Linked DNA regions of Homo sapiens: region 1 is reported to be linked to region 2. The links are microRNA targets in miRTarBase. Many come from high-throughput screens and were not tested one by one. Region 2 holds a microRNA gene; the other region holds the end of a gene's coding sequence.

Region 1 (7,116 bases), not on the chromosome of region 2:
AACTCCCAAATAGTTGCGATTACAGGTGGGCGCCACCATGCCCAGCTGATTTTTTTGTATCTTTAGTAGAGACGGGGTTTCACCACGTTGGCCAGGCTGGTCTCAAACTCCTGACCTTGTGATCCGCATGCCCCGGCCTCCCAAAGTGCTGAGATTACAGGCATGAGCCACCGTGCTCGGCCAAAAATGAAGCATTTCTTATTTAGTAGAAGAAAGAAGACCAGCTAAACAGGAAGCATAATGAACTCCTAGCTAAGCTCAGAGGAATTTGTCTGCAAAACCCTTACAGAACACCACACAATCAAATTATTTGCTCCATAGCAACTTTACCCCCAAAGTGCAGATCTGTTTGGCTTATTGGCTTGAGGGCTACCTGCACAGGATCTAGGCCCATGTTGTCTTGCCCTCTGATGCTCTGTCTTTCCATTTCCACCTGTTTTCTGCTGGGGGCACCTCAATCTGGACTGGGCACCTGGAAGGGGCCCTCTGTGAGAGCAGCTCATCATCACACTGCCATGGATGACTCTAAACCCAAAGCTGCTGCATTCCCAAAACATCAGAAGCACACTGCTCCCCCTGGAGTTATGAATAATGCAACACCATCAGCTACACAGAGCTGCAATCTGAGACGGCTGCCTGTGACTCAACAGCCTACATACACACCCTCTCCTGGCCACCTTATCCAGAACCAGGAGATAATCGTGGAGGACAAGAGATGGGAACCGGCTCCTTCCCCCAACATAACTCACCCCTCCAGCCTTTCTGGAATACGGGTGATTCCAGGAGCTATGCAAATCCAGCACATTGGAACTTTAGTACCAACAATAAGGAAACAACGGAGGATGGCAAAATAGAAAAAGGTCTTACCTGTGGCAGGTCCTTCACTGTAACAGAGCAAACCTACTTGAGTTTCTCCTTTTGTTTGGATCCATGGCTCATAGCCTTTTCTGTATCATGAGTGCCTTTGAGATCATTTCATCTCTCCCCAGCAAAGTGTCAAAGCAATTGGCACAGTGTTAAGAGGCTGGGGTGTGGAGCCAGACTTGGACTCAGGCTCTGGTTCTGCCATTATCAGATGTCTGAATCTCAAAGTCTACAGACATACCATAGAGATAATAGCAATACTTACCTCCACAGGGTTATCGAGGAGAATAAATGAGATAATGCATGCAGAACCTCTCACACAGCTAAGAATTTAATATGTTAGACTATTATTAATTATGAAAACACATAAAGAATTCTGCATATAATTTCAGAGGTCTATGATTTCTAGGGGATCCTTAGCCTGGTTCCGGATGGTCAGTAAGACAACTTTCTTCAATGCCTACATTTTCCCTCTGAATTCCATCTGTGTTTACTAAGCATCTGCTGTGTCCTGGGCAGTCCAACCCACATGAGTATCTTGGTCACTAGTGTCATCAGCACCTTTGAGGGGTAGGGATCATTCCTATTCTACTGATGAGGTGAGATAACTTGTCCAAGGTCGCATGGTGAAGTCGCTGTTGAAATCTGTCTTCTGACTCGTTGCTCTGTCTTCATCTGAGGAAAGACTTGTGAGGCTTCTGAGGAGGCTGCTCTCCATCCTGCTGTGTTCTGTCAGTGACACTTTGTGCACACAGGAGATCCTAAGACACATACCCTAGGCCCTCAGAGCCGGCAGTGACTTCTTCAAAATCAGTTCCGGCAGCGCTGAGTGTCCATGGAAAAGAGCTCTTATTCAGAGCAGCCCTTCCTGTGTGCAGAGCTACGCAAGTAATTAAATCACTTCAGCAACAAGATCAAGGGGACGGATAAGTGTTAGAGACTGTGTTTCAGTCCTGACTGCCTCTTATGCATGACCTCAGGAATGCCACTTCACCTCTCTGAGTCTGGTTTCCTCACCTATAAAAGTGAAGGACAGTTCTGACTCCACAGGGTGCTGTGTGAGGGTTACGTGAAGTCGAGGGTTACATGAAGCCTTTGCATAATACCTGGCACAACGTCAGTCTTCCGGGAGTGGTAGGACTAGTCTGCATTCTTGGTTTGCAGATTAGATGAGGAAACCCAGGCCCAAAGAAGCAAACAAACAATAGCTCACCCAGTCTTCTCTGTTTATTCTTCTCAACTACACCATGCTGCTTTGCAGGTTGGTTTGACAAACATTTCCCCACAATTAGATGCATGATGACCAAGGGAGGAAAGAAAATTTTCACAGGGTATTTAAAAAGCTCAGGGAACAAACAGATCAGTGCAAATCAGTAAGGCTAACACCTGAAAATGACTCTGCACAGGTGAGGAAGTGGAGCAGAAGAGGGAGGGGCTGGTTCAGGGAACAGGATTTAATATGTCAGTGAAGACCCTGCCTCTCTCTGTAACAAGATGCCTAAAGAAGAATAGTGGTGCTTCCAGCCCAGCTCCCTCTTGTTTTGGGAACAACAGTCATTTCTCAGAAACCTCACTTGCAAAGGCAGCCCTTCCAAAAACATGAGAGCTTTAGTTTGGAGAAATTATTTAAGCTCACTTTTGCTGGAGAGGAAATGAATTTAAACTAGGACACACAGAGAAGCAACAAAGAGTGTTAAAGAAGCAACTGAAAAGGTAGTCAAAGATCTGGCTTAAGGATTAGAAGCACTGGCTTTCTAGACTATGGACAAGTGTCCATTCAACAGTTATCCAGCCTGGCAGGAAGCAGATATCTTTCTGTGTATATCTGGATCCAACTAACATTTATCCAATGTCTGTTGCATGCCAGGTACTGAGCAAAAACCTTCTTCCTATAAATTTCATTTAATGCCATTAAGGCCAAGAAGGTGGCATAACCAACTTCCTTTTTCAGCTGAGGAAACAGGAGCACAGTGAATAACTAACTGGCTGGGATTTGTCCTAGGTCCCCTGAACTCCAAGCACAGTGCTATCTCCACTAGACCAAGCTGCCTTGTCTCTGGGCTCAAGAGAAGCCTGCATAGGAGCTGAAGGTCAAGAGGTTGCAGGCTTATCTCATATGCACATACTTGGACCTCCCTACCACACAGCTGCCAGCGACAAGAAAGGGCTTCTTTTCCTTCCAGCCAGGTCCAGAATTCAATGTCATTTTTCTAGCTTAGATTATCTAAAAAAAATGCCACAACAGGGGATACAAATTTTAACATATTTTATTGATTTAGGGGCCAAACAAGGCAGCATTTGGTCAGTTAAGAAAGGCACCTCATTGAAAATAATACATCACAGTGCTGTTGAGTGATCCCAGTCACAGGATTTGAGAATGGAAAGGACAATCTTTGGATGACATAGCTTAGGACACTTGCTCATTTATTTAAAAGAGTCCCTTCACACAGTGCAGATAAAAGAAGGCAAGAGCATAGGATTGTGGCATGTGCTGGGTAGCTGTGAGAGGTTACTCATGAAAGTAGGTAGCCTAGTAAATTAGTGGTAAGTCAGGGGAAGGGAATCAGCCTCCCTTTCCATTTCATTCCCTTCCCCCTCCCCTTGATTCCAGTTTGCTTGATTTGTTGAGCCACCATCCCTATGAATACACCTTACATCTCTTTCAAATGTGGAGATGGTTTTTTGATCTTACAGTGTGTGGAACCGGAGTCAGTAATCAAAGCTCCCTGTTCCAAGCTATAGACAGACAGGACAACAATTTGATTTCCTGTACTCTTGGTCTGGAACCCATGGGGTTCTGAGATAAAAGCTGAGGTCTTAGAGCACTGGCTTTAAAAAATATTTTCACCAGTCCAGAGTAAATGAAAACCCGATTCCTTAGAAATAATATTGTGTCTATTTCTACCCCCACCCTCCAAGCATGGTGTTTTTTAAAAAATTAATTTTTCCCTTACACTTTAAAAACTCTCACCTATGTATAAAAGAAACTGCCACACTACAATAACACTGCTGTTGTTCCAAGTATTCCTCTGAGCCCCTCACCAGCCCTCCCTCACCATCCTCACCCTGACCACCCTTCCCCTCTGCCCAGCACCTAAGAGCAGGGATCACGCCGCGGGGTGATGAGCAGTGTTGCAGTCTCGCCTGGCCTTCTGATACTAGGCTGAAATAGAGAGGAAACAAGAGAGAACAAAATGGGTTTTTAAAAACCAAGTACATATCAGAGGAGGCTGGCATGTAAGCCCCAGCAACCAAATGCATTAAACACTGGACATTTCTGTGACAGGTAAAAGCAGAACCTGCTGAGGCTGAGGAACTCTGGAATTAAATGAAGCAAAAACAGAATCCTAACCATACTGAGAAGGGTATATGCATTCCCTATGAATCTTCCAGTTCTTATGGGCAGCCCAAATATTACTTGTACATGTTGTATGCACACGTGAATCTATGTGGACGGATGACAAATATTTGGGCAAGGATCATGCACATAAAATTAGCAAACATTCAAGAACCTCAACTTTGAGGCCAAGTGCTTACAATTGTCCCTAGTTAAAGGGGAGCTGATTCTAAGATTCATGATGCCACTGTCACCCAGAGAAGGATCCCAGACCAGGCACACATAGCTGACAGTTTTTGTTTCACTCCTCTTCCTTGCCCATTCCCAGAAGTCATGTGCTTCCCAGAAACACACAAAGCCAGACTGAGTTTCCATTAAGAGTGGGTGGAGTTGGTTTAGAGCCAGGAAAACAAGGCAGGACAGAGGCAGCAGACACTCACTTGGACCAGGCAAAGAGGGAAGCAAGGTGGCCAGGTACTCATGCCCAGTTGCCATGTGGACAGCAGATAAGACCTCTGGTAGTCTCACAGATGGCAGGAGAGCTCAGGTCAGGAGGCTGGGCACTTTAGAGTCCACTGAATCGAGTCAGCAGCAGATTATGCTGAGGCTGGCGATATTATTTACTGGATCTGCCACTGACTTTCTAATGGTTTTTCCAGAGGCTGCCGTTTTTGTGGTCCTTCATAGCAGTCTGTTACTTCATCTGTTTGCCACAAATCAAACCAGAGACCAAAAGACAGCAGGGACCTTAGAAAATGCTCAATAGTTGGGAAGCTAAGGTTATGAATAAAAGCTGGTAACTGTCACAGGTGGTCTTATTTCTGGGTGATCTTTTCTTGGGGAAGTCCATGGCTATAGCCATCATAAAATTAGGGGTGAAGGGTTGGATCTAGAAAGGAGAGGGTTTGGGCTTAAAAAGAACATATCTGATTTCAGTTTTATGTCCTGGAGAGAGACTGGGTTTGAATAAATACTGATCAAAATGAATCCAAGAATAGATCACACACTGTTTTGTTCACACTTGGAAACACAGGCAAACATTAAAAATAAAAGCAAATAAACCTACCCTGGTCTCTTTTTGGGGAAGTAGATTTGACTGCTCTCAGATGATCAGCCTGGATGTTCAGAAGACAATCTGAATTCAAAAGGACCTTTCACCTGGTTTAATTCTCTGGCAACAATTCAGTTTTCAAACCCAATTCCCAAATAATTGCTATTTTCAGCATCATGATGCAGATCACAAAAATATTCCAATTTGGCCTGGCTCTTTTTATGACGATATCCTCTCCCAGTAATTTCTGTAACCTGCAAAGTAAGTGCCTTTTTCCTTCCACCTAGGGGGAAAAAATTAATGATCCCTGTTCACACACTGACTCACGTGGGTTTTCATCATGGGTTAGAAAACAAAATGGAATTCTCTGTCCATAATGTGCCATCAGGAACTGTGACCCTGCCTGACTTCACATGATCCTGGACTTCTAATCAGCTGCTGGAAATGGAAGAAATACTATGAGGTTCTGGAATTGCGGTCCCTGGAAGATTACCTGGGTTAGTTCATTTTGGTCAAAAAATAAAATCAAAAGTATGGTTAAAGAAGTAAACAGCTGGGCTGGGTGTAGTGGCTCACGTCTGTGATCCTGGCACTTCAGGAGGCCAAGGTGGGTGGATTGCTTAAGCCTAGGAGTTCAAGACCAGCCTGGGCAACTTGGCAAAATCCTGTCTCTACAAAAAATACAAATATCAGCCAGGTGTTGTGGCATGCACCTGTAGTCCCAGCTGCTCAGGAGGCTGAGGTGGGATAATTGCTTGAGCCCCAGGAGGCAGAGGTTGCCGTGAGCCAAGATCACGCCACTGCACTCCAGCCAGGGTGGCAGAGCGAAACCTTGTCTCAAAACAACAACAAAAAAGAAGTAAACAGCTGGTAAAGCAACCTAGCCTAAAACTTACAAAGTAGCAGAGTGAACACATATGTGCATGCACACACACACACACACAACACACATACACACAGATGAGAGTAGCACACACGCCAAAGATACATCAAGCAAGTGCTTTTTTAATCAATACATCAAATGATATTTTTGCTAGCCTGAGGAAGCTTCTCTTTGCCTGTCCTATCATTCCCACCCATTGCCTCACAGGGATGGAAAGAAATTCCTTCTTGGACCCAACATTAGATAAACATAACCAAGTCTTTACATGTGGCTTTGGAGAAGGCTGCTAGGATGCTTGCGAACACGACATCGGGGGTCTGGGATGCATCGATGGCGGAGTGGATCCCCCGTTTCCTGTAGTACTCTATGAGTGGGGTGGTTTGAGTGTGGTAGGCTTGCAGGCGGATTTTCAAGGCCTTTTCATTATCATCTGATCGACGGATCAAGGGTTCCCCGGTGATCTGAGAACAGGAAGACAGCAATGAAAGGCTGGGACTGTTAGCAAGGTTTTCTTATTCCATGCCAGATGCAGATTTGAGATGGGACCATTCTGCCCAGGATGCTGTCTGTTCCCAAAGCCCATCAGAGACAAAGACAGGCAATCCAGACCCTCTCCAGTGAAGAACTTTGCTACTCCCAGGAGCAGAGCAGCTGGTGAACAGAAGTCAGAGAGTTTGTCAGAAACACCAACTGTGAGGAAAGGGGCTCATGAGGGGAAGATAGGCAATGACTTTCTCATCTTTGTGCTCAGGCGATTCAGCTTCCAAGATAAACACTTCTAGGGTCAAAAGTAAGGAAGTCAAAAAGGCCCCTAAGACCAGAATACATCAAAATCAAAGATACATTAGCAATTGTAATCTTAGTTGCTTAAATATTTAGTGTATTTACTAGAGTGTCACCCATCAACATTCTAAAAGTGGCAAGTAAAATAAGAACTTTCAATGGTAGAATTAGCAACTTTGCAAAATGTGACTAAGTTGC
Region 2 (7,125 bases):
GAGTTTAAAATACGTGCATTAACTGCAGAGCTGCTCGCCTCCCAGATTCCCGCTTTGGCGCGCGGCGGCTCCGAGCGTGCTGCTCGGGCCCCCAGCAGCCAGACCCGCTAAGCCTAGCAACGTTCCATCCCCACTGCGCGCGCAAGGCTCTACAGCCCGCTCTGCTTCGCGGCCGCACTGAGGCCCAAGGCCTGCTGGGAATTGTAGTTTCCGTCCCGCTTCGTAGTCCGACGGGCTCGCCCTTACTTCCTTCCCTTGCAGCTTTACCCGCCTTCGAGATACCCACAACCCCCCGCGGGAGCGGGACTGGTCGGCCCACGGGGTAGGCGGGGAGGCGGAAGCGGGCGGCGCTACGGCTGACTGGGAAATGTCAGCCGCTGGACTGTAGACGGATTTTCCTTTCTCGGGAGCCCGCAGGCCTTCTGGTGATCGCCAGCGCTGTCGTCTCTGAGCGTGGATCCCAGAACCTGGACAGCTGTGGCGGCCGCCGTTTCCCGGTCCCGTCCAGACGCTGTCTGGCGAGATCGGACGGTGAGCCTAAGGCGGAACGCGTGAGGCGCTTTTGAGTCTGGGGTCCGGGGCCGAGAGCAGGCGGAAAGAGAGGGGACCCGGCAGACCCCGAGTGGCCGCCGCTGCGGGGCCCAAGTCCTTGGCTGCTGAGTGGTGACAGTAGCCCAGCCCGCCGGCCAGGTGAGAGGCTGCGAACTGCTGGCGTCGCACCTGTTCGTCCTTTTGCCAGGAAGCTTCTTCCTCCGTCGGGGAGAAGGCGGCCCTAAGAATTGGGTCTGTGGACGGGATCCTTCCTTTATCTGTAAAATAACGCACAACAGCTAAACACGCCGTTGGAACGAGAGACAATGGTTTAATTTTAGGGGAGCCGGAGACCCCAGCGGGTCCTGTGTGGTGGGAAGGCTGCGCATGCCCTTGCAGCCTTGACAGGTCTCATAAATAGCAACATGGGAATAAATGAAAGGACTGTATTTTGCAACGAGCTTTACCCGTGCACGCAGGGGGCCTCCAGCAAAGCCATTTGGTTGCTTGCTGTCGCTCAGCTGGCTACGTGTGTTTGCGTCGCCGCCTAAAAGCGAGCTGCTTTCAGCCTATCTCTGCTGAGAAGAGTTTGGGGGCAGTAAGAGTAGGGAGCGTGACATATTCCAGGTACAATGACCATGCGAAATCCATTGGGCAAACTATACTACAACTGTGACCCCGGGAAAACAGTGGAAGAGGGAAGGGGGATGAATTCTAAGCCTCATAAAAATGAAGATTTATAAAGTTCATAAGGAAGCATAACAGCTTCATCGCATATTAGAATATTCAGTGATGCTGTATGACACACCCTCTGGTTTCCTTGAAAAAATGATTCGCTCTGTAGTGAAATTAAACCTCCCTTGTGCAGGTATATGCTTGTTTCAAGCTTGGTCCTTAGCTTGAAAAGTAACTGCCTCTTGAGGAAGGAATTCATGAACCTTTAGCTCGTTCTTGAAAGATGAGATTGGTGTAAAGAAGGGATCTGTTCACAACTTGGTTTTGATTGGAACTAGGTGCAGAATCCTAGGCTAAGCCGTTCATCAAACTAATGTTATATGGAAAGCATTTTAAAATGCAATATCCTGATGTTTTACAGAAAGTGACCTTTATGTTACTTTGGCTAAGGAGAAAGCATTTGCCTTTGTTTGAAGCTACGTCCTTTCCCTGAAGATTGCAACTCATAGGAGAAAATATTTTTGACACAAAAAATTATAGTTTCCTTCAGGAAAGGGAACAAAACAGAGAGAGCCTGTAAGCTAATGGAGGAGAAAGAATAAACAAAAATATTTAAGATGCCATAATGAGAATAAACAGTTTTGAGATGTAAAATAATTGGGAGAGCCCACTTCAGATATAGATCTCATAGATAGGAAGGTTTAATCGATGAGATGATTCTAAATTTAAAGATGAGAAATATCTTTGTTCAGTCTTGGTTTTACTAGGAGTTACCTGGGAACTAGAATACTTGCAACATCTGAATTAGTGAACACAAGATCCTCTCTAGGACTTCAGGGAGAGCCTGTCAGTTTTGAAATTCAGTTTGATAGTTTGCCCCGGTAACAGACATACTTCATCTTCCTAATATGGGAATAATTTTTTTTTGCCTTCCTTCTAATCATGACTATTGCCTTAATATAATAAATGCAAGTTTAAATTGGTACATTAGATTCTTTTTAACGTAAGGAATTGTGTCCATTGAAGACGAGATTAGTAGGTACATAGAGGTTGCTATCTGGTCATAAAGAACTGCATTGTGATTGCTACTGATGTATCTTATTTTTTCTGATTAATTTTATTTTTATTTTTTGAGAAGAAATTTCACTCTTATTGCCCAGGCTGGAGTGCAATGGCGCAATCTCGGCTCACCATAACCTCCACCTCCCATGTTCAAGCAATTCCCCTGCCTCAGCCTTCCTGAGTAGCTGGGATTACAGGCATGCGCCACCACGCCTGGCTAATTTTGTATTTTTAGTGGAGACGGGGTTTCTGCATGTTGGTCAGGCTGGTCTCGAACTCCCGACCTCAGATGATCCACCCACCTCAGCCTCCTAAAGTGCTGAGATTACAGGCGTGAGCCTCCGTGCCCAGCCGATTCTTACATCTCTTTAAAAGGAAGACGGTCCACCCTTCTTTGTTTCTCCATCCTGCTGTCTAGATGATGATAGGATTCCTGGAGTTCCAGCATCTGTCCTGGAACATAAGGATTAAAGCCACCTGCTAAGGATGTGGACTATAGAAGGGGCCTGGGCCTCTGATAATCTGCTAACTTGCCATAACCACCTATCTCAAGACTTACACGAGAAATAAATTCTGCATTGTATAAGTCTGTACTATATTGGACTTTTCTGTTATGTGTAGCCAAACTAATCTTGAATAATGTATTTCCAGAACTGATAGTCTCTGTGGTGGTGGCAGCTACCTGTTTACATAACCCTTATCACCCCCTAATGTATTTTTTTTAATTGCCTGTTTCTTCCCACTAGACTTTTTAAGGGCAGGGACTTTGCTTGGATTTTTCTATCTCCAGCCCCTTGAACAGAGCTCACCATATAGTAGGCGTTCAGTAAATATTTGCTAAATGAATGAATGGTGCTTGGAACTAAGTAGATCTTTAATTCATTGTAATTTAATGCTCTAAGATAGGCAGCTTGGGGCAAGAACAAACGGATTCTAATTTACTCTATGTTTTCCACTTTTCCCATGTAGAGTACAGTCATATATTACCCTTAAATCAAGTAATAGTAGTATAATCTGTAATGTAAAAAGTTTGCGTTAAATTCTTTATTAAACATGACTAAGCATTCTGTCCTGATATATCTAAAAGAAATGGGAGAAAGTTTCTAATTTGTTCCCTGTGAAGACTGAACAAAATAAATCATTAAGCAATTTAAATTGCATTAAGAAACTATGTCTAGATTAGAGAAGAGACATGTAATTATGATCCAGGCTCTGTAGTAAAGATGCCTCTATTTGAATCCCAGCTTTACCATTCACCAGCTCTGTTAACTTGGACAAGTTACTTAACCTCTCTGCACTGTTTTTTTTCTGTTAAGCAAGGAAACGAACAGCCCTTTCTTACTAGGTTGTGAGGTCTAATTTGATAAAGCTTGGCAGGTACTAGTATTAATACAATGCTTAAAATTTAGTGAACACATTCTAAATGTTAGCTATTCGTTTTTTGAAATTATTTTATTATTAGGAAGGACTTTACAGATTATTCTCTATCAAAATGTCTTGCAATTTCTATGTATGAAATCTTTAAGAATTCAGTAAAATTTTAGTTCTTTTTTCTTATATGCTTACATGATTGCTACCTCTTCTCTTCATGCCTTGCAAAAGGTAAAGCAGGACAGTATGCCACTGTCCTCAGGGGCTTGTCACATTTTGGAATTCAGGTTACCTGGTTGGTTCGCCAACTCAGCTCTTAGGTACCTTTAAAAAATATTATGATGGTTTTTTTTTTTTTTTCATTTTTCGAGTGGGAGTAATAGTCTCTTGCAGTAGTCTGTGTCCTAAACTGAACTCTCTCATACCTGAAATCTTTAAATATGTGAATAACGATTATGTTTGGAAGATTTAAATTTAATTATTGGTGGAAAATTGTTGACTTAATCATTCACTTCTAATTCTGGTTCTTTTGATTTTTCATAATTAGGATTTTGAGTTGTCTCCTGGTTTTTATTATTTTGCACATATCTGAGTAAAAATACAGATATGTGAAGTTAGATAAAATTTCCAATTGGAACCTAATGATTCATCAGACTCAGATATTTAAGTTAACAGTATTTGAGAATGATGAATCATTAGGTTCCGGTCAGAAATTTTTCATTCAGTTTCAGAATCTTTGGTTTTGACAAAATTGTTGTCAGTGTTTTGTTTGTGTTCTGATCACTTGGTACCCATTCTCTCTCTCTCTCTCTCAAAACATTTGGAATTCTTCAAACTACAAAATTATCTTAACCTCTGAAGTTCCATCAAAGGGTATTTGGCCTGAAAAACTATTATCAGCCGTAAAGTACTCAGGAAACAGTACTTTAGTCAGTAACATTAGTCAGTAACATTAACACGCTAATTGTGAAACCATTATAAAGGCATTTGAAAGTAATATTGAATAATATTTTGATGATTGGAAAAAGATTGAATTGGATTTTAAATGTTTAAGACTTTCAGAACTGGTGTTTTGAAGGGTACGATATGCCCACACATCGGGCACTAAAATCTGGTAGTTTTAATGAATTGCCATTTTGATTTCGAGTATAATCAAGTTTTGCTACTGTGGTGCTTAATCACATGGAACTGAATTTTTATTTACCTCCCCATTTTAGTATCACCATCATCATCATTATCATCATTATCATCCCCTTTCTTCTCCTTCTTCCCTAAACCTTGCAACTCATCACTTGAATGTTGGCACAAGGTTAAAGATATGGACTTTGAAACTATTATTTTCTCAAGTTAGGAAAACCCCAATTTTTATCTCCAGTTTCATGGGATCACTGGTCCTAATCTGTGTCATAATAAGGCAATATAGTTCGGCCTCAACAGAAATAGATGGTATGGTAAACAGAATAATAAACCCCTAAGAATGTCTATGCTCTTATCTCTGGAACCAGTAAAAATGATGAAATTATTCAGGCAGGCCCAGTGTAATCAGATAAGCCCTGTAAAACAAATTTCAAGTGTGAGAAGAATTTGACAAGCCATTGCTGCTTCTAAAATATTCAGGACCACAGACACACACACACACACACACACACACACACACACACACACTCACACACACACACACACACGCAGAGAGAGAAGTGAGTGAGGAGATAGATATGTTAATTTGTTTGACTATGGTGATTATTTCACTGTATATGTACAGTATATCAAAACATCACTGTTGTGCACTTTAAATATATACAATTTAAAAACATATACAGAGCCACATGCAAAGACTGGGGAGAGGCCTCTAGAGCTAAGGTTAAATGCCAGCTGTCAGTTTGCAGGGGAACAGGGATCTCAGTCCTATAACCATAAAGAACTGAGTTTTGGCTTGGCTAGGTGGATCATGCCTGAAATCTCAGTGCTTTGGGAGGCCAAGGTGAGAGGATCACTTGCAGCCAGGTATTTGAGTCCAGCCTGGGCAACATAGCAAGACCCTGTCTCTACAAAAAAAATTTTTTTTTAAAATTAGCCAGGCGTGGTGGTGTGCACCTATAGTCCTAGCTATCTGGAAGCTGAGGTGGGAGGATCAGTTGAGCCCAGGAGCTCAAGGTTATGTTGAGCCATGATCATGCCACTGCCCTCCGGCCTGGGCGACAGTGTGAGACCCTGCCAGTAGCCTGAATGAGATTAGAAATGGATTCTTCTTCAGAGAAAGATGCAAACCTGCTGACACCTTGATTTTAAACTTGTGTGACCCTAAGCAGAGAACTAAGTTGAACTATGCTATGTTTGAACTTCTGACCTACAGAAGCTATAAGATATTAATACTAAATGGATGTTGTTTAAAGTCACTAAGTTTGTAGTAATTTGTTACAGCAGTGGTAAGATACTAACACATGAAGTGTGGGAAGGTATGTAACCAAATCATTTATTACTAGAATAAAGGATCCATAATTCTATTTCTTCATCTACAACCCTTTAAAGTGCTGACTATGAATCAGACTGAAAAACAGAGTGCCATAGTAAAAAAATTAATAGCTAGTGTCAGGTTTATAACTGATTTTGTTGTTTGCTTATTATGCCCATAATCTTACCACCTAAAGACTATTGATGTTTTAATATATTTCATTGTTACCTTACTCTTTTTTATGCTTATGTAAAAATATGTGCCAAATTTTCAATTGCTGTTAGGGTAATTTTCTGATGTTATTAAATAATCTTAACAAACATTATTTCTTATACTACAATAATATTTCATCATTTGGCTCTGCCATGCTTTATTTAGCATTTCTTTGGTAATCTCTAATATTTAGTCTTTTTTTTGTATGATTGTCATATTCCTTGCACTGGACAATTTCAGGTCTAGTTCAAGTCATAAAAGGATTTTCAGTTAATTATGTTATATTTAAACTCACATCAATTGGGTTTTTTTAAAGAAAAAAAACCCTAGATCTCGAAGATGGTTTTGTTATCAGCACATTCTGCATTGAGCTTTCAGCCAACTACTTAATCTATGCTTAGCTTAAAAATAAGATTTGGCTGGGCGCTGTGGCGCATGCCTGTAATTGCAGCACTTTGGGAGCTGAGGCAGGTGGATCACTTGAGCTCAGGAGTTCGAGACCAGCCCAGGCAACATGGCAAAACCTTGTCTATTTTTTAAAACATAAGATTTGACTTTGTTGTGGTATAAGTTGTTTCATAGAATATGAAATTTGAAAATTTGAGTAGTATTTGGTAATGTTCAGAGTTTTAAGCCTTTTGAGTTGTAATAAGTATTTGTTAAATCAGTTTACCATTACACGAGTTTTACATTGCCTTTGAAGTCGTCAGTAATAGAAAAATAGTGTATGTACTAAACTACACAGTATTTTTTATTATTTCAACAAATATTTCTTGATACTACTGTATGCCAGGTACTAACTACATCAGACAACTGGAATA

Evidence for each region. Region 2 holds the annotated microRNA hsa-miR-580-3p (UUGAGAAUGAUGAAUCAUUAGG, at 4,318-4,339, shown strand). A microRNA usually pairs through its seed, bases 2 to 8, with sites in the 3' UTR of a target mRNA and lowers its output. Matches are read on the target gene's strand: a 7mer-m8 pairs with bases 2 to 8, a 7mer-A1 pairs with bases 2 to 7 and ends in A, and an 8mer does both.
Region 1: the mRNA of AK2 is a reported target of hsa-miR-580-3p. Seed matches in the 3' UTR shown: 8mer at 3,236-3,243.

The regions. Positions count from the first base shown.
Region 1 is chr1:33,006,807-33,013,922 of GRCh38, forward strand. It overlaps AK2 (adenylate kinase 2), which reads right to left. Exons shown (of 6, transcript NM_001625.4): 6 at 1,180-6,596. The coding sequence ends at 6,375. Among named protein-coding and RNA genes, the nearest start is that of AK2, 27 kb to the right of the region's middle.
Region 2 is chr5:36,145,121-36,152,245 of GRCh38, reverse strand. MIR580 (microRNA 580) reads left to right here and starts at 4,258; the gene lies at 4,258-4,354. It overlaps LMBRD2 (LMBR1 domain containing 2), which reads left to right and starts at 359. Exons shown (of 18, transcript NM_001007527.2): 1 at 359-690. It overlaps SKP2 (S-phase kinase associated protein 2), which reads right to left and starts at 135. Exons shown (of 10, transcript NM_005983.4): 1 at 1-135. RefSeq lists enhancers at 1-18, 92-1,075 and silencers at 289-428, 1,029-1,088.